Linked DNA regions of Homo sapiens. The protein of the gene in region 2 purifies or fractionates together with the protein of the main gene of each other region. This does not show direct contact. Each region holds a gene or a part of one and is shown on either strand. Other genes may lie near its edges.

What was found.
Region 1: the proteins of SLC35C1 (region 2) and RABL3 purify together in Homo sapiens (affinity purification with mass spectrometry; one large-scale study listed by BioGRID and IntAct). This does not show direct contact.
Region 3: the proteins of SLC35C1 (region 2) and RP2 purify together in Homo sapiens (affinity purification with mass spectrometry; one large-scale study listed by BioGRID and IntAct). This does not show direct contact.
Region 4: the proteins of SLC35C1 (region 2) and ITPR3 purify together in Homo sapiens (affinity purification with mass spectrometry; one large-scale study listed by BioGRID and IntAct). This does not show direct contact.

The regions. Positions count from the first base shown.
Region 1 is NC_000003.12:120,684,781-120,692,851, forward strand, and holds the end of RABL3 (rab-like protein 3), read right to left. Parts: intron 5,708-8,071; coding exon 5,669-5,707; intron 5,324-5,668; coding exon of another isoform or gene 5,282-5,323; intron 5,109-5,281; coding exon 5,043-5,108; 3' UTR 158-5,042; downstream 1-157. UniProt on the Homo sapiens protein: Required for KRAS signaling regulation and modulation of cell proliferation. Regulator of KRAS prenylation, and probably prenylation of other small GTPases. Required for lymphocyte development and function. Not required for myeloid cell development.
Region 2 is NC_000011.10:45,806,785-45,810,832, reverse strand, and holds part of SLC35C1 (GDP-fucose transporter 1), read right to left. Parts: intron 2,698-4,048; coding exon of another isoform or gene 2,654-2,697; exon of another isoform or gene 2,291-2,653; coding exon of another isoform or gene 2,263-2,290; intron 58-2,262; coding exon 1-57. UniProt on the Homo sapiens protein: Antiporter specific for GDP-l-fucose and depending on the concomitant reverse transport of GMP. Involved in GDP-fucose import from the cytoplasm into the Golgi lumen.
Region 3 is NC_000023.11:46,843,784-46,852,315, forward strand, and holds part of RP2 (protein XRP2), read left to right. Parts: intron 1-8,532. UniProt on the Homo sapiens protein: Acts as a GTPase-activating protein (GAP) involved in trafficking between the Golgi and the ciliary membrane.
Region 4 is NC_000006.12:33,687,322-33,693,913, reverse strand, and holds part of ITPR3 (inositol 1,4,5-trisphosphate-gated calcium channel ITPR3), read right to left. Parts: coding exon 6,587-6,592; intron 6,437-6,586; coding exon 6,350-6,436; intron 5,858-6,349; coding exon 5,747-5,857; intron 5,676-5,746; coding exon 5,483-5,675; intron 5,259-5,482; coding exon 5,133-5,258; intron 4,677-5,132; coding exon 4,504-4,676; intron 3,881-4,503; coding exon 3,716-3,880; intron 2,998-3,715; coding exon 2,805-2,997; intron 2,300-2,804; coding exon 2,195-2,299; intron 2,114-2,194; coding exon 1,986-2,113; intron 1,187-1,985; coding exon 1,021-1,186; intron 370-1,020; coding exon 209-369; intron 1-208.

The DNA.
Region 1 (8,071 bases), on a different chromosome or scaffold from region 2:
TGGAGTGCAGTGGCATCATCACAGCTCACTGCAGCCTTTAACTCCCAGGCATAAGCCATCCTCTGGCCTCAGCCTCCCAAAGTATTGGAATTACAGGCATAAGCCATCATGTCCTGCTGGGATTGGAGAATAAATAACTTACACAGCTACAGATAAGTTCTGATTCTATGTCTAATGGCTTTCCATTTTAATTAATGTAATTATACATTCATTTATTTAACAATTTTTGAAAACCATCACAACATAGTGTAAGTGCTCTGACAGGAAAGAGCCCAGGGATCTAGGGGAAGCACTAGTGGGCACGTAGCCCAGACGAGCAGAGCCAGGGAGGGCTTCCCAGAGAAGACTATGTCTGAGCCAAGTCCCATAGAGTAAGAGTTGGATAGAAAGTGGAAAACATTACATCCAGGAATTGCTACAAGGTAATGTGAAGCAGGGTGTGACAGGTCTACAGAGTAATCACTCCAAAACGGAGTTAGGCATCAGAGGACTCCAGGACAGATGTCTCCGAGAAAAAGATGGAACGGAGAGATTACCTGATATACTTGATGGTACTGAGCGAGGTTTTACACCTTGGTTGGAGTTTAGGGGTTCCATTCTTTGTCATTAGTTATTGATGACCTCGGTAAAGCTTAGTGATTAGCCAGCTGAGAAAACACAGTACTAGAGAGGGGGCTGTGTGTAAGATGGCAAGGCACTGGTTAGAAATAAATATATTTGGATTAAAAACAGAACCCAGGGGAAAAACAGTGGCAGTAATAAAAATGATAGCAATACATGAAAGACAAATACTTGTTTTGCCAACAGAAGACATGACAATCATCTCATGTTTAATTTGGCATATGTAGCTTTGAGTGGGGAGGAGTGGATCAGTTCATTAAGGTGAGATCAGGTTGAGGCAGTCAAAGATGCGCTTTGATGAATTCTGCTATAATGGCACTCATAAAGTACAGAGTTCACAATCTATATTCCCTACTTTTTGATGAGTTTATTTGTCTTTCTTAAAGGCTAGATCCTGACTTATCTGCATGAGAAAAATCTGGCTTGTCTGTTAAAAATACAAAATCCTGGCCTTATCCTATACATATAGAAAGGGGAGAGTAAGGGAAGAGAGAGGAAATCGTGGAATCTGCATTTTCAGCAAGCACTTCAGGGGATTCTTACACACTTCAGAGTTTGAAAGCCCTCCATGTGAGTCCTTAATGGAGGTGCAGATTAATTGTAACTGGATGTCCAATTCCTTTACTATGCTATGGAGCAGCCCCAGCTGACCCTAACATCAGATATTTTGTGTAGGCAAACATGTTGTGAAATATTTGAGACACAGGGTTAGACTTCCTGCGACCCTTCCTCTCCCACCACAGTGATTTAGCTCAGTCTTGGGACTGCGGAGAAATGAATTTCTAATTTCCTTCTCCTCCTTTCCCCAAAACAGACTCCTCCTTTGAATTTTAACATATATTAAACCAATGCAGACACCCTGTTAGACCTTTAAACTTCTTAAAATATGATGTCACCTGTGCTTTAAAAAATTCAATTAAGCCACCATCTAGTAACCCATACAAGGTCCTACCTATGGTGGGTGCTACTGCAAACTATTGAAATGAGGACTCAGAAACTCTGATTACAAGGAGCAATTAGGAGCTCTTCACCTCAGTCTGATGTCCCTGCACATCATTTCCATGAAGTCCATGTCAGAATGAACAGAAAAACAAGTGTCAGGGCACCTGGATTATATCATGAATGCCTCAAGTTTGAGGAATTCTAAGAACCCGAGCTAAAGCTAATATGGATCAACTCTTTTGGGAATAGCTTTTCTTAGAGCACTGTAGCGGAGAAGAGCTTTCTTTCTTCACCCATCACTAGGTTCACAAATGAGGCACCTATAACGAAAGACAGATTATTGAGAAAAGCACACACATTTATTTACTGTAAGTTTTACATGACAGGAATCTTCAGAAATGAAGACAAAAAAGAAATAGGAAAACTTGTGTATTTTTATGTACAGTCTTATGCAGAAGTATAATCAGAGGACAAAAGGACATAATCTAATGGTAATAAACTGTGGAGAACTTAGCAAGTCCTATTTGTCCAGATTCTTCTTGGTGTCTCTGTATCTGTGAGGATAAAGGGTACCTATGGAATGAAGGTTTTATGATCTACTTCAGGGAACAGTCACTTAGGGTTTATGGCCTGCTTCAGGGGAGAAGGGGTAAGGGGAAGGTATGAGAAACCTTGCTTCTGCAGTTTTCTCAAATAACAGGGTGCAATATTTTGGGGTTATGTGTCCTGAATCCCATCAACGTTAAGATGGAGAGACCAGCCCAAATCTTTAGTTGGATTCCAGCTAAGTCTTATACACCTAAGGGACAGAGGAGTAGTCATATATATGCCTTCATATCTGGTCACCTTCACAATGAGTCAGAAAATTGGTCAGACACCGAAATCACAACAGAAAAAAAAAATCTTTATTTCTACCAACTTGTCCCATCAAGAGAGTAAGATATACATATGTAAAGAGATGGAGTCCCACTCTGTCATCAGGCTGCTGGAAGGCAGTGGTGCAATCATGAATCACTGCAGCCTCAAACTCCCGAGCTCAAGTGATCCTCCTGCCTCAGTCTCCTAGAGTGCTGGGATTATAGGCGTGAGCCAGCACCTGGCCAATTATACTTTTAAAAAAATATTTTGACATTTATACTTGTTTATTATCTAAAAGCATTTTTATGAATAGTTCTCAAGAAGTCCTAGCAAAAATTGTGCTTCATTCTTTTTTGAATAACTCTAGCTAATAACATTCATTTGCGCAAAAAGCCTTATTATGCTGCTGCTAATAATTGCAACAAATTTACCTTAGATTATTAAAAACTATTTTTTCTTAGAAAACTATAATTCAAGGAATCAAGCTTGGCTGCAGAAAGTAATGGAGTTGAGGAATACTGTTAATTTTTCCAGATTGACCCTGGAGTCATCAGCAATAGTTTACTTTTATTATTTATTTATATATTTATATATTTATTTATTTATTTTCTTTTAGTTGGAGTCTCACTCTGTCACCTAGGCTGGAGTGCAGTGACACGATCTTGACTCACTGCAACCTCCACCTCCCAGGTTCAAGTGATTCTCCTGCCTCAGCCTCCCAAGTAGCTGGGATTACAGGCGCGTGCCACCAGGCCTGGCTAATTTTTGTATTTTTAGTAGAGACAGGGTTTCCCTATGTTGGCCAGGCTGGTCTCAAACTCCTGATATCAAGTGATCGACCCGCCTCCCAAAGTGTTGGGATTAAAGGTGTGAGCCACCGCGCCTGGCCTATTTTTATTTTTTAAATAAGATAGAAAATAAAAAAATCAGGATGAATTTTTTTAAAATTAAAAGAAAGAGGAAGAAAGAAGGAAGGAAGATTTATTTCTTGAAGGAGAAATACAAAGAGCTTAATTGGGTTAGGTCTCTGGGTAGCATTTGGTTTCTACTTCCCAACTGTACAGCCTATGCAACAACATACTTGTGACCAATTCTACATACAGATCATGATTTGCATAGCTTTCCTTTGTGTCAAAAAGAAACCAGGGCTATGTCCTTTCAAAGAGGAAGTAAAGAAAGGCTGGAGAACAGTCTAGCTGATGAAAGCTGCTTTAAAAATCCTTTTCCAAATTCCCAAGACTGCCTTTCTAAAAGGACTCTCTAACATTCTTATTTTAATATCCTCTTGCAGCATACCTTGATTTCCAAGATACTTCTGAAACCTAATTAAAATGGAACAGAAAGTGAATTTGGTGTTTTCCACCTATTTTTTAAATGAGAAATGAAAACTGTATATTTATTATTGTTATTTAAAAGTATGGAGCAAAATCAGGAGTGCAGAGACCTGCAGCAGAGCCAGAGAGAGAATACGGGTGATAGAGTGTTGAATAAATTGTTTTTAGAAATCAAATTCATATACTCAGGAAGAACTGGGGCAGAGAAGATTAAGCAAGCAAAAAGATAGGTTAAAAAAAGTAATGATGAACAATTACGGACACACACACACACACACACCATCCCCAAAAAGCTTTGGAGTGATTATGAAATCCAAGAATCCTAGTTCATAATTCATGTAAATGTGTTGCTGTGGAACTTATTTTTACTTCTCTCCATAAATACATTGTTGACACAGAATAATATTCTTAGTTTTCTGATTATAGCTAAGGGACATTTCAGGAGTTGACTTTTCCTTAAAAAAACAAATAGAGAGGAGGCTGTAAATGTCTCTCACTGCCCTTGTGCAGGTCTTAGATTTTACCCTACCTATTTCCAAACAGAAAACCTAGACTGTATATAGCAGCAACCTTAAGAGTGAGGGAGCTGTCAATTTTTCACATCATTTTACCAGAATTCTTTTTTTCTGGTATTGCTGTTCTCTATGTATTATTAATTTGTATTTATATTTAACTCTGGCTATTAGTCCGCCTCTTCCAGTCACTGAGCCATTTGCAAAGGAGAGAAGAGGGAGACAAGGGTTGCTATTATTAGGCATTCCTGTGTGTGACAATGGTGGAGACAATTAAATAACACCATTTTGCATCTTTGAAAATGACAGAGATTGTTTGGGGTAGACAACTCAGGGCTGGTTAACAAGACCGTTCCCCTCAAGAAGGTAAAACAATGGAGATACGTTTTTGAAGTACTTAATTAAGCTTTCAGCAATGAGTGTGGGAAAATTACAGACCCATAAAAACCCTCCAGTTCTAGGCAAGAGTAAATTTTCTCTGCAGTACACTGTCATTGCTCATTTACTGCATCATTTTGACAACATCTCATATTTACACAAGGCTTTTACATAATCTATACACAGGGACAGAAAGGTAAGGAACACAGAGAACAGGGACAAAGTTTGGACCTCCCGTATTGTCACTTCCTTTCATTTTTCCATTAAAGGGTAAGGCTGAAGGGTAGCATTTTAAGATGATTTTGTTAAAAGGCTGTGATGGTAATAATTGAACACAGCAAGATGAGCTGTGAAAAACTGCCACTGCTTGCTCACTCTTCCAAAGGATGAGTGTAATTCAGTCATAATGAAGGCTCTTTAATGTTCCTGCCCCAAATCTTTTCCGATCAGGAAAGCCTGGAATCTGTAGGCAAGAAAGATAATTGCATTAAGTCTCAAGCAATAAAAGTTCAAATACTAATAGTAATTTTTCCCTTCTTTTCCATTTCTGTATGTCAGCCTGCTGTTTCTTAAAAAAACAACTTTCTGAGGTTTTACTCAGAAAACCACAGATTAAATAATAAAAATAAATCTTACCCAAATGGAAAACATTTCCCAACAAATTGGTGATAGTGTCATCTAAATCAGAAAGAATGAAGGTAAATCTCATAATACCTACTAGACTTTTATAGAAATTATTTGTATTGTGACAGACCCTGAACGTATACTCTTGGAGTCCCAAGCAAATTATTTTCTTCTTCTATTTTATAATGTAATCTTATTCCTAGATTATATTTGTTTCCTAGATCCTTATTTTCCCTTTGTTCTGATTTTCTCCTTTTGTATTTAACAGGATAGAAGGAAATCAGTTGCTTGTGCCTATAAAGGGCTTTCCCCAACTTTTTAAAACTACTTCTGAACTTAAATTTGGAAATCACCTATCAAAATTTAAGAATCTATTTTATCAAGAAAAGAGATACCAACCTGATTACCTTCTCTTAAAAAGTATCTCTTCTCTATGACCTGTGAAAAACAAAGATTTTAAAGGCTTAGCACACATACCTGCAAAAAGTGGCTAACTGCAACGACCACTAATGGTACTAAAAGGAATATATCCAAACTAAGAATCTTTTCCATAGCAGTAGACATGTAGTACAGTCAGCTAAAAATCTGGTGTTAATGAGATCAGAATTGTGAGAGTATTTCCATAAAAGCCTGCCTCATTCCAAAACGCATTAATGATAGATCAAAAAATAAATGAATAACAAAAACTAAATAATGATAGAATGATATAAGATCCTATGCAATTCTTAGAGTATGACAGCAAATCTGACTCTAAGTTTCCTAGCAGTCAGTCCCAAAAGGTACTAAACAGCATCCATAAAATAAAAAAAGCACTTGCCTGCTACAATAGTCTTGTCTATTTCTTAAAGAGGGGACTGTTTAACATAGCAAACCACCACATCCCTATAGTAAGTGGTGACAAATTCTATATGTCCTCAATATAGACAGATGACACAACATCAAAAGCAGTCTAATGACTGTTGTAAATTGTCTACTTTTTTTTAACTAACTGCACCCTTACTTCAGTAGTTTCAGAATTACCTGCATTTGATAAGTAGAAAAAACATGTTCAAGCAGCAGATGTATCTGCACAAATCCATCACCATTATTGAAAAGAAACCCTCAAAATATATGTCCAAATGTAATAAGTTTAAGAGCACCATGTTTTCATTTTTTCCCAAAACTGCTGTAAACCCTAAAGAGCACCATGTTTCCAGATGATGAAAAACATTTTCAAGAATAATAAATTCTGTTCTGACACTTGAGAAACTGCAATGGTTACAGAGGAAGTATTATAAATGGTCTCTGATTTAGGATGGCTTGACTACGATTTTTTGACTTTATGGTGGTGTGAAAGCAACATGCATTCAGTAGAAACTGTACTTTGAGTGCCCATACAATGGGCACTTTTTTCACTTTCAGTATAGTATTCAATAAATTACATGAGCCATTCACAACTTTTTAATAAAATAGGCTTGTGTTAGATGATTCTGCCTAACTGTAGGCTAACATAAGTGTTCTGAGCATGTTTAAGGAAGGCTAGGCTAAGCTGCGATGCTTGGTAAGTTGGGTGTAATAAATGTATTTTTGACTAACAATGTTTCCAATTTACAAGGGGTTTACTGAGATATAACCCTATCGCAAGTTGAGGAATAGCTGTATTTTCTTTACATAGACCTGCTGTGATAAGAAAAGTTAATCGGATAATAATACAGATCAGCTGGAGATGAACTCTAAGACATTCAAATCTGAAATTATGCAGCTAAGAGTTCCTCTGAATGAGAACAGACCAGCTTGCTCTCTCTGGTGCCACAGCCATTCATCCAGATTCAACACCAAGACCATTCATCCAGATCCAAGACCAAGACCAGCTTGCTCTCTCTGGTGCGACAGCCATTCATCCAGATTCTTGCTGTCTTGGAGACTATAGCTGGATTATTTTTAGCCACAAGACACCAGGGCAAAGTTGCATTCACTTACCCCAGAGGTAGAAAAGTTGGTTTATCATTAGTGTACATCTTAAAACAATCCCACAAAAACCAAGAAGGAGACTGATTCCCTTTCCTCTCTATGGCAGGACAGGAAAATCTGATTATTCTGGAGCGTGAGGAATTACTACTAGTTGAAAGAGGCTGGAGAAGGAGTTAGACTTCCTTTTGGAGAAGAAATCTTTTTTTTTTGTTTGTTTCAGATGGAGTCCTGCTCTGTCACCCAGGCTGGAGTGCAGTGGTGCGATCTCGGCTCACTGCAAGCTCCACCTCCTGGGTTCACGCCATTCTCCTGCCTCAGCCTCCTGAGTAGCTGGGACTACAGGCGCCCGCCACCACACTCAGCTAATTTTTTGTATTTTTACTAGAGATGGGGTTTCACCATGCTAGCCATGATGGTCTTGATCTCCTGACCTCGTCATCTGCCCGCCTCGGCCTCCCAAAGTATTGGGATTACAGGCGTGAGGCACCGTGCCCGGCTGGAGAATAAATCTTTATGCTAAATTCTGGAAGAACTGATGTATAGAAAACTGGGTGAAATCTGGTTGTCAGCTCCTTTGGTTTCAGGCAACCACCTCAGTCTGGAGGTCTGGCCAACCTCCTAACCCACATACATTTTGTTGTGATTCAGGCAATAAAAGAGAAGTTACCTTTTTGGTTTTGGTCATAATTCTTTACCCCTGACTTGCAATGTGTACTCCTGATTTTTTAAAAAATAAAGCCTTGCCTGACAACTCGGATTATACCAATCAATAACCCAGTTTCTCTAGGATGTAATTTAGTATATCTTATTTTTTAATTTTAGAACTAATAAAATTTTAAATTTAAACAACAT
Region 2 (4,048 bases):
CCAGCCACGACAGGGTGCCTTCTGCCCCCTCCTGGTCCACACCAAGCCAGAAGCCCCCTGCAGTGGGGAGAGGAGGAGTGGGGAAGGGTGAGGAAGAGGGATGAGGACGAGGAGGAAGAAGGACAGAGGATCAGACACCAAATTTCACAGACTGAGTATTGCGGCCCTCCCCGTTCCTCCCCAGGCCTCCCTCCAATAAGCACAGCCAGAGTCTCCACTGCAGGCAAAGCACTCCACATGAACTATGGGAGCCGCCCAGGGCAAGAAAACCTCCTCTGGCAGCTTATCTGCTAGCAGAGGAGAAAGACATTAAAACAAATCTTCCCAGTTACTTCTTTAATTACAATTGTAAGAATTGTAATGAGGTCCATAAAGTAGTACAAGGTGCTGTGAGAGCCTGTAAGTGGGCGACTGTGCTGGCCTGGGGCATCTGAAAATAACAGTTGAACTGAGTTCTGAAGAATGAGTGCCACTTAGTGGTTAATGTGATTTAAGGTGACCCTGCGTAAATGACTTCCAGTGTCTAAGCCTTGGCTGCTTCTTGCATGGAATGGGAGCCTATGATGTCATCATGGGGCACATTAAGTTAGAATCTCTTGTGTCATTTGGGGCAGTGACTCTGAGACTCTCATCTTGTGTCACTTCCTGCTCAAAGAGCTTCCGTGGCTCCCCACTTCTGCCATGAGGACTACACTCCTTGGCGTGGCAGGCGGGGGTGCAGGCCCTTCCTCTGTCCTATGGTCGCCCCAGCTTCCCTGCTCGTCTCCCTGCTTCTCACCCTGGGCCTCAGTGTCCTTGTTCATGTCCTGTGCCAGAAACACCCTCCTCCTTTCTGGGGGATTCTACTCATCTGTCAAGGTCAAAGTTGGCTTCTCCTGGGGAATCCTTTCCTGATAATCCCAGAACCTGGACTCTTACTGCCTCGCTTTCCTGCAAAGCCCCTTGCCTGCTCTGGGCTGCTGGGCCCCTGCCCATGGTGACAGTCTGGTCTTTTTAGCCAGATCCCATGCTCCCAGAAGCCAGGGGCTGAACAATGCATGTTATACTTCCTGCCACAGCATCTGGCAACACGGGGCAGTGGGGAAAGTTTTGGGGTCAGAGGGATTTAGCCTCCAATCAGGCTCTGCAATTTAGAAGCTGAGTGGCCTGGGAGAAGTTACTTAACCACTCTGAGCTCTCTGGGTCACCTCCCTGTCCTCCACTCCAGCCAATCTACTCTCCACCTTGCAACTGATATGATCATCCTGAAGTCCAGATCGGTCCAGGCTGTGCCCTGGTGTGAAGCCTCTCTGTGGCTCTCCACTGCCTTCAGGAGAAATTCCACTCACTCACCACAGCTCTTAGGACCTGCACCACGTGGAGTCGGCCTGACTGGGCAGCCTTGTGTCTGGTGAGTCTTGCTGTGGCCCAGCCATGAAGAAGTGCACGTGCTCTTCCTTCTATCTAGAATGTTCTGTCCCTACTTCTTCCTCTAAACCCAGTTTCTAAACTTCCTCCAGAAGGCCTGCTTAGACTGCCCTGTCCCCGGGTCCCCTCCCTTGCCCAGAGCTCCCACAGCCCCTTTTATGCATGCCCCATCACAGCCCTTACTATGCTAGCGTAACTGTCACCACCATGCCCTCCAGGAGTGTAGGAGCTGAGGTTACCTTTTCCAAACTTGTATCCCCAAAGCCTGGCATGGTGCCTGGCATGTGTTTAGCCACCAATTACTAGTCGTGGAATGAATGAATGAAAGTTGTTATGGAGGTGGTTGTATTAAAGGAGACAGGATACTTCCTACATCATAGGCACTCAACACACAGCACTCTTCTCTTTTTCTCTTTGTTTTTTGAGACGGAGTCTCGCTGTGTCACCCTGGCTGGAGTACAGTGGTGCGATCTTGGCTCACTGCAACCTTCGCCTCCTGGGTTCAAGCGATTCTCGTGCCTCAGCCTCTTGAGTAGCTGGGATTACAGGGATGCGCCACCATGCCTGGCTAATTTTTGTATTTTCAGTAGAGAGGGGGCTTCACCATGTTGGCCAAGCTGGTCTTGAACTCTTGACCTCAGGTGATCTGCCCGCCTCAGCCTCCCCAAGTGCTGGGATTACAGGCATGAGCCACCATGCCCAGCCCAACCACAGAGCCCGACCCTCCTCTTTCTTGACAGAACCTTTGCACAAGGGGTACCCACAGACCTGCTGGGGGTAGGGTGAGGGGGGCAGAGGGCTGCACCACCCACTCACCTGCTTGGCTACAGCACCCCTAGCCCTCCTGGTGGTTACCTTCTGAGTCCAGAAGCAACTGCAACATCAATGTTCTAGAGCGACTCTTGCCCAGAAAGAACTTTTTTTTGAGACTGTGTCTTGCTCTGTCGCCCAGGCTGGAATGCAGTGGCGCGATCTTGGCTCAATGCAACTTCTGCCTCCCGGGTTCAAGCAATTATCCTGCCTCAGCCTCCCGAGTAGCTGGGATTACAGGCACATGCCACCACGCCCGGCTAATTTTTTGTATTTTTAGTAGAGACAGGGTTTCACCATGTTGGCCAGGCTGGTCTCGAACTACTGATCTCAGGTGATCCACCTGCCTCAGCCTCCCAAAGTGCTGGGATTACAGGCATGAGCCACTGTGCCTGGCCCAGAAGGAGCTTTGAAAGTTACTGTGTGACATGGGGGGCTAGGAGGGGAGGCCTAGAATAGTTGCCTGAGACTCGTCTTCCCCTACAAGGAGGAAGAAAGAGGAAACATTGCAGATAGGGAGCCAGGTCCTGGGCTGGCAGAGAGCGTCCACCTCCCTGGCCCCTGTCCCAGTCAGGCACGCCCGTGAATGCACCATTCTCAGAACCTCACCACTGGTTACTTGGATTACCTTTGGGATTTGGGCCCAGTTACCCTAGTGTCTTCACCTTCCTGCAAGCAAATTCTCCAACTAGGAGCCTCTACCCCTGAGGCCACTCCTGGCAGGGTCAGCAGGAATGAAGTAGAGAGCCCTGGGGCATCTGAGGAGGACAGGGAGGAGGGGAGGTACACCTGTTCCCTGGAGAGGGAAATGGAAGCAGGCTGGGAGAGTTCTGGCAGGGGGGGTCTTGCAGCTTCCCCTACTCTAACTGTGACCTTCTCCCTTCTCCCCTCTTGGACTTAGACCCAGCAGCCCTAGATCCAGCAGCTGCTCAACAAGGGGAAACATTTTCTAGGACAGGTGGCATGGGATGGGTCCCTTCCCCCACCAACCGGTGCATCTAGCCTGGGACCCTGAGCCATCAGCAAAGAATATGATATGTAGGCCAAATAAGATAAACTTTATAGCACCAGGAAAAACCAGCATAGGTTCAAATGAAGACCCCATTCCTAGATGACGCAGCCCTGGGAAGACTCGGAGGGAATGGGATGCTGGAGGCTCTCTAACGCAGCATGGGGCCCAGTAAAATATGGGCCCATCTAACCTGTGCTGTCCCATACCATAGCCCTCAGCCACATTTGGCTACTGAGCCCTTGAAATGTGGCTAGAAAATCAGGTTGTAACATCTGCAAATGAGGAAGTGAATGTTTAACATTTTGCTTAATTTTAACTAATTTAAATAAGTGGCCAATGGCTACTGCATTGAATACTGCAGTTCTAACCTCCAAGACGAGCAGAGGGGATAGAAGCACAGGCCTGGGAGTCTGGCCAATCTGGGTTTGCATCCCAGCCTGGCTGCTTGCTAGCTGTGTGGCCGTGGGCAAGTAATGTAACATCTCTGAGCCTCAGTTTCCTTGTTTGTATAGAGATGACCGCTGGTAGTGATGCCACAACCCAGGGGATCTCTGGGAGAACAAAGGAGATGCTATATGTGAAATAATTAGCATAATTTCCCCATCAATAATTATTATTTTCTGAGGGTCAAGTCCAGGAAGACAGCTGAGGCCTCTCAAAGCATATTGCTTGCTACTGTCTCAGGCGCTATCCTGAGCTGGCAGAGAGTGATGGTATATTTATTAAAAGACGTATTGTCCTCTACTAAGAGCACTGGCTGGGAAATCAGGACACCTGAGCTCTTGAGAAACAATAAAGTACAGTGGTCGGGCATGTGAA
Region 3 (8,532 bases), on a different chromosome or scaffold from region 2:
ATAAGCTCAAGATACTGGTCTTGAGCTTATACTATATAAGCTCAAGATACAGGGTAATTTTTGTATTTTTAATAGAGACAGGGTTTTGCCATATTGGCCAGGCTGGTCTCGAACTCCTGGTCTCATCTGATCCTCCCACCTCGGCCTCCCAAAGTGCTGGGATTAAAAGCAAGAGCCACTGCACCCAGCCTCAGAAATTTTTATAGAAGTTTTAAGAATGAAGCATCAAAAAAGAAAAGGTATCAGAAAGCTGAAATAGCAAGGTCGTGGTTAAGATCATTAGATACATAGGATATGAGTTGAATTTTTCATAGCCCCTTTTATTAAAACAATCATTTAAAAAATATATTTTTGACCCTGGTACTCTACAAAGCTTAGTACATTTTTTTTATTTAAAAAAATTTTTTTATTATACTTTAAGTTGTAGGGTACATATGCACAACGTGCAGGTTTGTTACATATGTATGCATGTGCCATGTTGGTGTGCTGTACCCATTAACTTGTCATTTACATTAGGTATATCTCCTAATGCTATCCCTCCCCCCTCCCCCAACCCCACGACAGGCCCCGGTGTGTGATGTTCCCCTTCCTGTGTCCAAGTGTTCTCATTGTTCAATTCCCACCTATGAGTGAGAACATGCAGTGTTTGGTTTTTTGTCCTTGCTATAGTTTGCTGAGAATTATGGTTTCCAGCTTCATCCATGTCCCTACAAAGGACATGAACTCATTCTTTTTTATGGCTGCATAGTATTCCATGGTGTTTATGTGCCACATTTTCTTAATCCAGTCTATCATTGATGGACATTTGGGTTGGTTCCAAGTCTTTCCTATTGTGAATAGTGCCGCAATAAACATACATGTGCATGTGTCTTTATAGCAGCATGATTTATAATCCTTTGGGTATATACCCAGTAATGGGATGGCTGGGTCAAATGGTATTTCTAGTTCTAGATCCTTGAGGAATCGCCACACCGTCTTCCACAATGGTTGAACTAGTTTACAGTCTCACCAACAGTGTAAAAGTGTTCCTATTTCTCCACCTCCTCTCCAGCACCTGTTGTTTCCTGACTTTTTAATGATCGCCATTCTAACTGGTGTGAGATGGTTATCTCACTGTGGTTTTGATTTGCATTTCTCTGATGGCCAGGGATGATGAATATTTTTTCATGTGTCTGTTGGCTTGCATAAATGTCTTCTTTTGAGAAGTGTCTGTTCATAAAAGCTTAGTACATTTTTTACTTGTATAAATTCCAAATAGGCTAAAAGCCTACTGACAGTATTGACAGTAGCAATGATGATGTAGGTGTCACTTGGGTTAAGTCACAGGAAAACTCAAACCATAGTGTCACAGAGGCTACCCTTTAGCTTTGCATGCCCAGAACACAATTTAATAGCAAAGATAGTGGATCTGTCTTCTGGGAGGTGTGTATATTGACTAAGATCATAAGTTTTATATTATTATTGAGAGAAACTATTTGTCCTGTTCATTTTCTTATTATGTTTCAAAGTCATTGAGATTAAGAATTTATATTTCAGCACTATTAGTTCTATAATTATGTGGCACTAATGTTTTCATTTGTGAAATAACCTCTCAGCTACATAGCTATCTAGCCCTGAAGCTGACTTAACAATGTTTAAACTTTAAGTATTTGTTTTAATTGAAGTGTAATTTATATACAGTAAAATTTACCCTTGTTAAGTGTACGGTTCTATGAGTTTTGACAAATAAATACAGTTGTGGAGCTATCACCAATCAAGATATAAAATGGTTCCATCGCCCCCAAAAGTTCTTCCTTTGTATAGTCAGTTTGCTCCTTTGTAGTCAGCCCCACTCCCAGCTCCTGATAAGTTTTCTATCCCTATAGTTTTGTCTTTTTGAGAATGTCATATACATGGAATCATACAATACGTAACCTTTTGAGTCTGGCTTCTTTCACTTAACCATAATGCATTTAAGATTTATCCATGTTGTTGCATGTATCAAGAGTTTTTTTTTTTGAGATGGGGTCTCACTGTGTCACCCAGGCTGGAATGCAGTGGCACAATCTTGGCGCACTGCAGCCTCAGCCTCCGGGGCTCAAGTGATCTCCCATCTCAGCCTCCCAAGTAGTGGAGACAACAGGCGAGTGCCACCATACTCAGCTAATTTTTTGTATCTTTTTGGTAGAGATGGGGTTTCAACACGTTGCCCAGGCTGGTCTTGCACTCCTGAGCTCAGGTGATCCGCCCACCTTGGCCTCCCAAAGTGCTGGAATTACAGGCATGAACCACCACACCCAGCCGGGAGTTCCTTTTTAATTGCTGAGTGGTATTCCGTTGTATGGATATATCACAGTTTGTTTATCCATTCATCAGTTAAAGGACATTTGGGTTGTTTCCAATTTTGGTAATTATGAATAAAGCTACCATAAATATTTGTGTACAGGTTTTTGAGTGAACATAAGTTTTCATTTCACTTGGGTAAATACTCATGAGTGGGATTGCTGATCATATGGAAATTGTTTATTAAACTTTACAAAAAACTGCCAGGTCAGTGGCTCACACCTGTAATCACAGCACTTTGGGAGGTGAAGGCAGAAGGATCGCTTGAGGCCAGGAGTTCAAGACCCGCTTGGGCAACATAGTGAGACCCCACCTCTACAAAATGGATAAACATAGCCAGGCAGAGTGGCATATGCCTGTAGTCCCAGCTACTTGGGAGGCTGAGACAGGAGGATTGCTTGAGCCCAGGAGTTTGAAGCTGCAGTGAGCTCTGATTGCACCACTGCACTCCAGTGTGGGCAACAGAGCAAGACCCTGTCTCTATAAAAAAAAAATTAATTAAAAATTTAAAAAAGAAACTGCCAAACTATTTTTCAAAGTGGCTATGCCATTTTGCCTACCAGCAGTATATGAGAGATACAGTTGCTCTGCATCCTCACATCACTTGCTTGGTATTGTCAGGTTAATTTGTTTTTAAGAGACAGGGTCTGCTCAGTCTCCCAGGTTGGAGTACAGTGGCATGATCATGGCTCACTGCAGCCTGGACTGCCTGGGCTCCAGCAATCTTCCCACTTCAGCCTCCCAAGTAGCTAGGACTACACTACATGTGTCTGCCACCACACTCGGCTAATATTTTTATTTTTTGTAGAGACAAGGTCTGGCTGTGTTGCTCAGGCTGGTCTGAAACTCCTGGCTTCAAGCGATCGTCCCACCTTGGCCTCCCAAAGTGCTGGCATTACAGCTGTGAGCTACTGCACCTCGCCTAGCTTTAAAAAAAAATGTTTAGCCATTCTAATAGGTGTGTAGTGATGTTTCATTGTAGTTTAACTTGCATTTCCCAAATGACTTGTATTTACCTAAATGTTGAGCATTTTTCATGTACTTATTTGCCATCCATATATCTTTGGTAAAATGTTTATTCAAATCATTTGCCCATTTTTTTATTGGGTTATTTGTTTTCTTATTATTGAGTTTTTCAGAGCTCTTTATATGTCCTGGATACAAGTCCCCTGTTATATATATGTTTTGCAAATACTTTTTTCCCAGTTAATAACTTGCCTTCTCTTAAGAGTGTCTTTTGAAGAGCAAACATTTTCAATTTGAGTAAAAGTCCAATTTCCACTCACTTTTTCTTTTGTGGATTGTGTTTTTGGTTTCACATCTAGGAATTTTTTTTCTTTTTCTGAGACGGAGTCTTGCTGTGTCGCCAGGTTGGAGTACAGTGGCGCGATCTCGGTTCACTGCACTATATGTATATGTATGTATGTATGTATGTATATACACATACACCATATATATGTGTGTATATATATACATACATATACAAAACAATTGCTTACTAGATGCACAAATCAATGGAATAGAGAGTTCATAAACAGGCATATCTCTCTTTACATATATATATCTATATCGATCACACTATATATATGTGTGTGTGTATATATACACACATATATGTGTGTGTGTATATACACACATATGTGTGTGTGTATATACACACATGTGTGTGTGTACATACACACATGTGTGTGTGTATATATATACACACATATATGTGTATATGTGTATATATGTGTGTATATATGTGTATATATGTGTGTGTATATATATACACGCATATATATGCGTATATACATATATATGGACTCATATATGTGTATATACATATATATATATATATATATATATATATGGACTCACAGTGTGTCCTTGGACAAGTTATATAGTCTCTGTGTGCCTCAATTTTCTCAAGTATAAAACAGAGATAATTATAGTACACAACCCTTATGGGGTTTTTATGGATTGAGTGAATGATTATAGAGCACTTAGTATGGTGCCTGGTACATATATAGTGCTTCTTATACTCCTGAATCTTTTTACTTCTATTCAGACTGGATTTTCATTGGAATTAACAAATCCCATTATTTTATCTCACATTATCATTATGGAAATTTAACTGTGGAGATGAATTTTAATGAAAAATTTGTATTGCCGCTTAGTAAGATAATAAGATGTTCATTTTTGTTTTCTGTTAGGAAAATAATGCTTAACTTGGTTTAATAGCTGTAGGACATTAAATTGATATCAGACGAATTACAACTCTTGAAATTTTTCTTTGATTTTTTTTTTTTTTTTTGAGACAGAATTTGGCTCTTGTCTTCCACGCTGCAGTGCAGTGGTGCGATCTCGGCTCACTGCAACTCTGCCTCCTGGGTTCAAGCGATTCTCCTGCCTCAGCCTCCCAAGTAGCTGGAATTACAGGCGCCCACCACCATGCCCAGCTAAGTTTTGTATTTTTAGTAGAGACGGGGTTTCACCATGTTGGCCAGGCTGGTCTGGAACTCCTGACCTCAGGTGATCCACCCGCCTCGGCCTCCCAATGTGCTGGGATTACAGGCGTGAGCCACCACGCCTGGCCACTTTCCTTGATTTTTTAAAGTATATCCATTACCTTTTAAGGATTGTAGTAAGAAATAGTCTAGGCCAGACACGGTGGCGCATGCCTGTAATTCCAGCACTTTGGGAGGCTGAGGTGGGTGGATCGCTTGAGTCCAGGAGTTCGAGACCAGCCTGGACAACATGGCGAAACCCCATCTCTACAGAAAATACAAAAATTAGTTGTGCATGGTGGTGTGCACTTGTAGTCCCAGCTACTCAGGAGACTGAGGCGGGGAGGATTGCTTGAACGGTGGAGGTCGAGGCTGCAGTGAGCTGTGAGTGTGCCACTGCACTCCAACCTGGGCAACAGAGTGAGACCCTGTGTCAGAAAAAAAAAATACAGTCTAAACTAAACTCACTTCATAAGTGGCTCTTAGGAAAAAATAATTTAAAACATGACCTTTCCATGTTTGTGATTCTAGACACTTTATTTCAGAACTAGTAACCTGCAAAATTACGAAGGATTTCAGTTTCAGTTGTTTATTATTACTTTTTTTTTTTTAAAGTGTCAGGGTCTTGCTTTGTCACCCAGGCTGGAGTGCAGTGGCATGATCATGGCTCACTGCAGCCTTGAACTCCCAGGCACAAGCAGTCCTCCTGCCTCAGCCTTCTGAGTAGCTAGGACTACAGGCGCACACCACCATGCCCAGCTAAGGGTTTTTGTGTTTTTTTACCCCCCTTCCACCAACTCACTTCAAATAATCTGCTAAGTTTTAAAAAACTTTTTTAGAGCTAGGGGAGTGTCACTGTGTCACCCAGGCCAGTCTCAAACTCCTAGTCTCACTAGGCCACTGGCCCACTCTCAAGTAGCTGGGATTACAGATGTGAGCCACTGTGTCTAGCTCCTAATGCTTTTTGTTTTGAAAAACTTTCAGGAATTGTTGAGAAAGTACAGCAACATAAATCTTAAATTTCTCCTTGGAAGGCCGTGCTGACAATCCAACTAATTTTATACTACAGAACTATTTAGCTATAAAATCTTTAGCTATCAGATTAATTTCTCCCTATGAGCTAGGAAAAGTGGAGCGTCCAGAGAAAATACTTAGGGTAGTAAATTACATTTAACTCCTCAGCATTGGCAGCTGTTATGGACTGAATGTTTGTCAAATTCATATGTTGAAGCCCTACCCCCCTACACATGGCTGTATTTGGAGATGGGACCTCTAAGGAAGTAATTAAGGTTAAGTGAGGTCATAAAGGTAGAGTGCTGATCTGATAGGATTAGTGTCCTTATAAGAAGATTCAGTTAGCTTGCACTTGCTCCCTCCCTCTCCTTCACACAGAGGACAGGTCTGGTGATGACATAGCAAGAGGTTGGCTTTTGCAGTCTGAGCAGACTAAAACAGGCTGCCATAACAAAATACCACAGACTGGTGGCTTAAATAACAGAAGTTTATTTCTCACAGCTCTAGAGCCTGGGAAGTCCAAGATCAAGGTGCTAGCAGATTCAGTGTCTGGTGAGGGCTCTCTTCCTGGCTTACAGACAGCTGCCTTCTTGCTGTGTCCTCACATGGCCTTTCCTCTGTGATTCATCCTTCTGCCTTACCTCCTACAGCCATTGAATTACCAGTCTGCTGATTCTGTTTCCTCAGTATTTCTCAAATTCATCCCATCTTCTTCTTCCCTACTAATTACAGCTCTGGTTCCAGCCCTTTCTGTATGACTACAATAGTCTCTCCGATCAATCCATGTTGCATGTGTCCTTATCTCATCAGAGTAATTATCCTGACATGTAAATTTTGCTTATTTAAATCTTTCTGTGGTTCCCTCTTGTCTGTGGATAACTTCTAAGCTTTATATAATACGGTTTCTGCCTACCTCTGTAGCTTCATCTACTAGCATTCTGATAGCATGTGTAACACCAAACTACTTTCAGTTTTCCTCCTACTCCCTGAAGAATTTTACTTTGTTCCGTCTGTTACTTTTGCCTGGCATGGGAAGGGAGGGTCCTTTATTCCTACCCCTTTTACCTAATGAGCTCTAGCTTATCCATTCTCATGTTTTGCAGAACTTCCGCCCCACTTCTCTTCCCCGCCCCAGATGTCCCTTCTCTGTCCCCTCCAAAATATTCTCAGCATCTCTCATTACATGGTCAAGTTGTTTTTAGTTTAGATGAATGTTTACTTTTATGGAAAGAGCTGGTCCTATTCATTTTAGTGCCTAAAACAATGTCTGGCTCATACTGGGTATTCAAATATTGGTAGAGTGACTGAACATCCAGAAAGTTAAGGGGATTTTTTCAAGATCCGGTTGCTTATAGGGGACAAAATTGGGACTGGAAAATGAGTACTTCTTTTATTGCCTCATACTGCAGACCAGTGTTCCTCCTAGTACAGCATGTAAAACTGGCTAAGTACAATATCTATTGTGCAATTACTAAGTCAATTTAAGCTCATTTGCTAATCATTAAGATGATTAAATTTTGCTTTGTAAATCAAATTTTTACATATTGTATATATGGGAGCCTATGGTGCATGAATGGTTTTGCATGAAGTTTATATAGTCACAAACAGTTAAAACAGTTGAAGTAGATAAGAAAGTCACATGGAAGAAACAAAAATAGGCTTTTAGTGACCATATTTTGATAGGTCAGGTAAAATAAAAAAAATTAATGTGACATTTTCCAGGCATACTGTTTAAAAGATTATGTGGGCCGGGCTCGGTGGCTCACACCTGTAATCCCAGCACTTTGGGAGGCCAAGGCAGGCAGATCATCCAAGGTCAGGAGTTTAAGACCAGCCCGGCTAACATGGTGAAACCCCATCTCTACTAAAAATACAACATTAGCTGGGCATGGTTGCACACGCCTGTAATCCCAGCTACTCAGGAGGCTGAGGCAGGAGAATCACTTGAACCCGGGAGGTGGAGGTTGCAGTGAGCCAAGATTGCGCCATTGCACTCCAGCCTGGGTGACAAGAGTGAAACTCCATCTCAAAAAAAGAAAAAGGCCGGGCACGGTGGCTCACGCCTGTAATCCCAGCACTTTGGGAGGCCGAGGCAGGTGGATCACAAAGCCAGGAGATCGAGACCATCCTGGCTAACATGGTGAAACCCCATCTGTACTAAAAATACAAAAACAGGGGCCAGGCGTGGTGGCTCACGCCTGTAATCCCAGCATTTTGGGAGGCTGAGGCGGGCAGATCACGAGGTCAGGAGATCAAGACCATCCTGGGTAACACAGTGAAACCCCATCTCTACTAAAAAATACAAAAAATTAGCCAGGCATGGTGGCGGGTGCCTGTAGTCCCAGCAACTCGGGAGGCTGAGACAGGAGAGAGCCGAGTTCATGCCACTGCACTCCAGCCTGGGCAACAGGGCGAGACTCCATCTCAGAAAAAAAAATACAAAAACAAAATTAGCCGGGTGTGGTGGCAGGCACCTGTGGTCCCAGCTACTTGGGAGGCTGAGGCGGAGAATGGCCTGAACCCAGGAGGTGGAGCTTGCAGTGAGCTGAGATTGCGCCATTGCATTCCAGCCTGGGCGACAGAGCGAGACTCCGTCTCGAAAGAGAGAGAGAGAAAGGAGGGAGGGAAGGAAGGGAAGGAAGAGAGGAAGGGAGGGAGGGAGGAAGGAAGGAAGGAAGTAGCGAAGGAAGAAAGGAGCGAAAGAAGG
Region 4 (6,592 bases), on a different chromosome or scaffold from region 2:
CTGCTCCTCGCCCTGCTGACCTTTCAACAAGTGTCTGCAGCTGTCCGAGCCCCTCTGCCTGGCCTCCTAGGGCCAACAGTCAGATAGGGCCACTCCTCTCCAGGGCCCAGGGTACTCAGAAGCTAAAACCATGAGGCCTCTGGTGCACAGTGATGACTCTAGAATGGCTGGTTTGGGCCCACAGGCCTGGCACAGCCCCTGCTCACACCTTGATCATCTGGGCCACGTAGCTCTCAGGGCCCGTGTAGTCGGTCTTGTTCTTCACGCGGACCAGCACAATGAAGTACAAGTAGTTCCACATGTTGTGCTCCAGCTTGATGTGTTCCTCAAATGACACTGTCTTGTTATCAAACTTGTCCCTCTCCAGACCTGAGGGTGCAGAGGGCGGGAATGAAACCATCAGCCTTCAAGAGCCACTGCAGGGTCACCTGCTGGAGGGGACCCAGCTTCCGGGGGTTGGAGGCATTTGTTCTCGGGATGAGCGCTTCCAACAGCTCGCTCTGGGCTATTTGGGTCACTTCTATTTAAAGCAGCAGCCACTTAGTGGAGATCCTGCCCTGCCGCAGCTGCAGCCCTCCCGCAGCAGCAACCGAGGACTCCAGGAGTAAACGCGAGAATTTCTCGAACTCAGGGGAAGCCCGAATGGCTGAATGAGCGAGGTCCTACAGGCCATACAGGTGACACCTGCCTGAGCCCGAGGTGGCTGGTGAGGGGACTAGCACTTCATTTCAGGGGTAGGAAAAGCACTGGACTGAGACCAGAAGCTCCAGACACTGACTGGGCTCATGTCCTCACCTAGAAACCCCAAGGGTTTACAGGGATGGGCCTGTCCCACTCCTTTCTGACTCCAAGTTCAGGCAGGGTCATGTTCTCCCCAGTTCTGGGATGAGCAAATGCATCAAGTCATCAGCTCCGGGCCAGGGTTCCCCAGGGCAGGAAGGGCCAAACCGCTACTGCCACTGGCATCAGATGACGTTCCAGCCCCGCTGCGGCCTCCACAGAGCAGGAAGCAGCCCTCACCACAGATGAAGCATGTCGTCTTAAGAATCTCCTCCTTCTTCTGCTTCTCACTACGCAGGTCAGCGAAGGTGTCGATGATTACCCCAAAGATGAGGTTCAGCACAATGATGATGACGATGAAGAAGAACAGGAGGTCATAGACCACTCGGGCTGGGAAGAGAGACTCCTGCAGGGGATGAGGCAGGGAGGCTGGGCCCGGTGGTCCCCACATTCACTGGGGCAAGATAGGACTCAGGTTGGGGCCAGGGCTGTGATATTGAGGACCCAGCCCCTAGCAGAAGGAAATGAGGGCCTCTGGCCTGGGGGCCATCAGATGGCAGAGTGGACCCAACCTGGCTCCACAGAGCAAGAATTGCAAGCAGAAGCCCTGAGTTTGGGTTAGGAAAGCGTGGACTCAGGACACGCCGGGGTGGAGGCCTGCAGAAGGAGTCTGGCGGGGAGGTAGGGCTACGAGTCTCGGTGTGTCTCTGCCCCTAACATTGATGAGGGAAAGAGGCAGCTCTGAACACCTCTGCCCACCCTCAGGACGCCTGGCCTCACACATTCCAGAAACCCTCTGTCTGGCCAGGGAGGCGGCCTCTCACTCCCAAGCAACAGGGGAAGGCCTGACATTCGGGAATGTGGCTGCCCAAGCCAAATCATGAGGCCTCCTGATAAAGCTGACTCAGCTCCGCCCTCTGCCCACCTGCTGTGGGCTAGGAAAGCCAGTGGTCACCATCCCTAGCCCTGGGGCAAAGTTTGGTTGCCAAAGTCTTTCCTTATGGAATGGGAGGGTGAGGGGGCAGCTAAGCAGTAATATCATGGAATTGGCCAGGTGTGGAAAGCAGGGAAAAGTGGATACAAGTTCGGGGGAGGGGGTTCAACCCTGAATATCTGACGCGAGGCCAAGGACAGGACTCTCCACAGTTGCTGATCTGGACAGTGGCTTGGGCCCCACAGGTTTGGGAGTGGGCAGGAGTGCTCACATCTTTGGAGGGCTTGCGGAGAATGTCGCCCACGCCACCACCGTTGCGTAGCCCATGGTTCATGACAGTGACGATGCACATCAACAGAGTGTCACAGGCCCGCTCTGTGCTGTCCAGCTCCCTGTCCTCTGCAAGCGGAGAGTGTGCTGAGGCCCGGGCTGCCTGCTCCTCCTACCCCACACAGACTCCTGCACACACACCACCCTCACCTTCCAGGACCTCAGGCACCGAGAGCCCTGAGACACAGTCCATCTTGTCCCCACTGCAGGTGTCCACAAATGCAGCAGCTCCATGTGGCATCCCCAGGGGGCTGGCTGGAGGGGATATGGATGAGATCATCAGGAGGTCCAGTGCCTGGCCTTATCCCCTGGCTCTGTCCCCAGTGTCACATCCTCCAGGAAACCTTCCCTGGTCCTGGATCGCCAGCCCTCCACTGTCCAGCCACAGTGAAGGGTCATCACGCTTCTGCCCCCGACTGGGTTGCACACTAAGGGCAGGGAGGGGTCTCTGTACCCCTAGGCCTGGCACACGGGCAGTTTCTGCAAATACTGGGTTTAACATGAATGACAGTTCAAGGGACTCCAGCCCTCAAGCAAGGGGTTCCTTAGGGGCCAGAGACCCAAGGCTCTCCCACCCACTCAGTGTGTTCCAGAAAAGAGCGAGGCAGACTGGTGTTAGCTAGACGTCCCCAGAAGCCAAGAGGAGAAGCAGACGGGAGCCTGGTGAGGTAAGCGCTGCAGGTCCTGGTCCTGACGCCAGACATTTGTGAGACCCAACCTCATTCCCCACAACCTGCCCAGGAGAGGAAGCCTCCAAGACCTGTGGAGTGGTTGTTGGGCAGCCGGTCGACCTCGAGAATGAAGTCATCCTTGAGGAAGAGGAAGCCGACGATGGAGAAGAGGTAGACCAGGATGAGGGCCAGCAGGGCTGTCAGCAGGATGGAGCGGCCATTGCGGGTCACACTCTTGATGACGTTGAACAGCGTCTCCTCGCGGTAGATGAGGTCAAAGAGCTGCAGGATGGGGTTGAGATAGGGATGGCACCTTGAGGGGCTGGGCCGGCCACTCTCACTGGGGCTGCCACTGGAACCCTGAGGGCTGCCTGGGCTCCAGACAGTTTCCCAAGGCTCCTCCAGGGAGGTCTGCACTTAGTCGTATCCAAGCTGGGTGGGCCTGTCAGGGGAGCTTCTCGAGAAACCTGGAATTCTAAGGTCACAGAAAGGGAGTGGCCCAGGGGAAGGCACGAGGGGTGAAACGGGTGGCTGAATACCAGCCAACTCTTAAAATGTACTTGCTGCATGCCAGGAAACAGTGTAAGTGCTTTCCATGCATTAGCTCATTTCATCTCACAATTATTTTAGAATGCAGGGGCTGTTGTTATCCCCATTTTACAGGTGAGGAAACTGAGGCATGGGGCAGTTAAGAAACTTGCCCAGTTACACAGCTAGTAGTAGCCCAGCTGAGATGCAAAGCCCTGGTCCAGCTCCAGAGTCCAGGCTTGAACCACCACTGTACAGGAGAAAGGGGTCAGATGGCCACCAGGAGTGGCCATCAGGGCCTTGAGGGCCAGGCTTGGGTCAGGCAGATGAAGACTCTGTAATTTCACTGCTCCCAGCCCAGCAGCAAAAGGACTGGACAGACAGACTGGTGCCGGGGAACTGCCAACAACTCATGGGAAGCCCCAACCACCCCATGCCCCCATCCAGCCCCAGCCCACCCAGAAGGCCTCACCAGGATGCTGTAGAACAGCTCATGAGCAAAGAGGCCCAGGACACTGGTCAGGATGTAGCCCACGTGGTAGAGGAATTCCATGTCCATGACCATGGCCTTATAGCCCCGGATGAAGGTGCCACGGTTGCCCACGAAGCTCACCACAAACACGATCTTGTTGGTCAGCTGGGGGCGAGTGCAAGGCATGAGAGTCAGCACCCTACCACCTATGCTGAATCTGCACGCATGTCCCCCAGTGCCCAGCTCAGAGCCTGGGAGGCATGGCATTAATGAAATTGCTTCCAGAAACGCATCTAGGCGCCTGGGACTCAGAATACAGAGGCAGCCCCTTGGGTCCTCAGTTCCAGGAAGACAGTGAGGTACAGGCAACGGAGGATGGGGACAGAGAAGACCACTGACTGGCTCTATCAGGGAAAGGTATTCCTCGCTCAAAGCACTTTATTTCCATCTGTCAGGAGATTGTCATTATGTATGAATCTTCACGTCTGCCGCGTAGCAGTGCCTCTGGGCAGTGCACAGCCCGCACAGTGTGCACAGCCACCCTGACCCTGTTGCTCCAAAGGGACTCTTGAATTTCTGTCTCTGAGTGCCAGCTGCCCTCAGGTGTTGAGGGAAAGGAAGAAGGTACAGAACAGTCCCTGCCACCGGTCTATAAGGAACTTGGGAGCCCAACAGAGAGGAGGGGATGGGACAGAGCAGTGGCTCCTGGAAGCAGCAGGCCAGCTTGCCGTCTGAATGCACAGTGAGCATGAGCTTGTTTGGGAATGGGGGCTCCCTCTGGCACTCACATTGAGGGCACCCAGGATGTTGAGTGTGGGCCCGATGCCCAGATAGTAGATGGAGCGCAGGATGAGCGCCACGATGAGGGGGCGGATGCTGTAGCGCTTGGTGAACAGGGCCGCGATGGAGAAGCAGATGAGGATCCAGAAGAGCAATGAGATGAGAGGGGAGTCCAGCACGCCTGGGGGCCAGGGGCAGGGTGAGCAGGGCTCCCTCAAGCCCACCACGGCCCCAGAGCAGGTCCAACAGGTGCCGAAAAGCCACCTTCTCCTGGCCGCCTTCCCGGTTAAGTTCCTGGTGCCTGGTTTTAGCCTCCTCCATTACACCTGCCTCTCAGGCCTAAGCGGGAGGCCCTGTCCGGCTGCGGCTACCAGGTTTTGTTTCTGGCTGACACATCTATGCGTGTGCACGTGCCTGCATGCGCCATCTCCCATGAGGTCAAAGACCCTGACCATCCCCTTTGACCGCACCTGTGTCTCCATGATGGGGCGAGAGCCCACAGGATGGCGCAGGGGGTGCTTCTGCACACTCTGCATCTGGTGCCCTCAGAGGCCAGCTGGCCTCAAGGCTCTGCCCCAACCCAGGGAGGAAGCATGGCAGGGCCCGGGGAACCTGCCGGCCAGCCCTGTGTTCTCACCTGTGGACGCGCCCTCCATGTAAGGGTAGAAGAAGGCAATGATGATGTTGATAAACACGGCCAGGTTGAAGGAGATGCTGCCCCACAGGGTCATGCGGCGGGAGAACCAGTAGATCAGCGGCATGCCTGAAGAGGAGGGCAACGGTGAGCTGCTGGAGGGCCCTGGTGAGCACCCCCTGCCCCTTGCATGTGGGGCCCCGCTCAGGAGGAAGCCACACATGGAAGAGCCCTTCCTTGGGGTGAGGCGGGGTTGGGCGCAGGGCACCCACAGGCAGGCAAAGGAGGCCGTTATAACAGGGCATCAGTGAACAGCTCCAGACCGCCCCACCCTCCCGCCCGTGGGTCCTCACTGCGGAGCTTGCGCTGCCACTCCATCTCGTTGTGCAGGAAGGAGGACTGGTCGAAGAAGTCGCTCACTTTGCTGCCCTGCTCGTCCTGCTCAGTAGTGGTGAAGAGCCGGTGCTTGGTTTCCTCCGTCAGGAACTGGCAGATGCCGGGCACTGGGAACACGATCTGCTCCATGCTGCGGTCCTGCCGCACAATCTGAGCACACACAGCACATGGTCACGCCCGGCGCAGGCTCCCACGCCCGCCCCTGCTGCCCACAGGCCCACCTCGATCTGGGACGTGTGGTTCTCATAGTAGGCCAGGGGGTCTTCCTCCTCCTCCTGTGCTGGCGCTGAGGACTTGAGCATCTGTGACAGCTGCTTGTTGTTGAGGCTGAGCTGGAGGTGGGGAGGGCGCGGAGGTCAGGCCCCAGCCTCCACATCCAGGCTGGCACTCAGCCCCCACCCTCCCAGGCCTTCGCCTAGCTCTGAACTACACTTCAGCGAGTGTCCCCGCCAAGCCAGAGCAGGCCAAGCCCAGCCCAACTAGGACTGAGCCTTGAGAACCTGGTGCCAAAGGGAGGGGAGTGGGAGAGCCATGACCAGAGAATCCCAGAGGATAGCGGGGGCCTCCTCAGTCCTGCCCAAGTGTAGCCCGGGTCCTGCTTGAAGCTTCCAGACCCACCCTAGACCCACCTGAGCCTTGCTTCCATTTCTGTCTGGGTTTCACCCACGGCTGCCAGTCCCAATCAGCCCCCTGAGCTGTACCCCCAAATTCTAGCCTGGCTCATATTCTAGGGCCTCACTCTGTTCCAGGCCACGCCCTTGGGTCAAGTGTCCTCCCTGGGTTCCAGGCCCCACCCCCACCCCAGTCTCGGGGCCAGCACCCACCATGGAAGAGATACCCTCGGCCTCCTCCTCTTGAATGCGCTTCACCGGCTTCAGCAGGTGCTGCAGCTGTTTATTGTGCCTGGAGAGCTGAGGGAAATGGCAGCACAGTCACCAGGGTGTGGTGGCTGGGGGACATGGTGGCTGGGGGGCGACAATGGCGACTGGGGGATGATGGCAGCTGGGGCGGGGTATGGTGGCCAGGGGGGTGATGGCCGTTGCCACGGGTGGAACTGGTACCTGCAG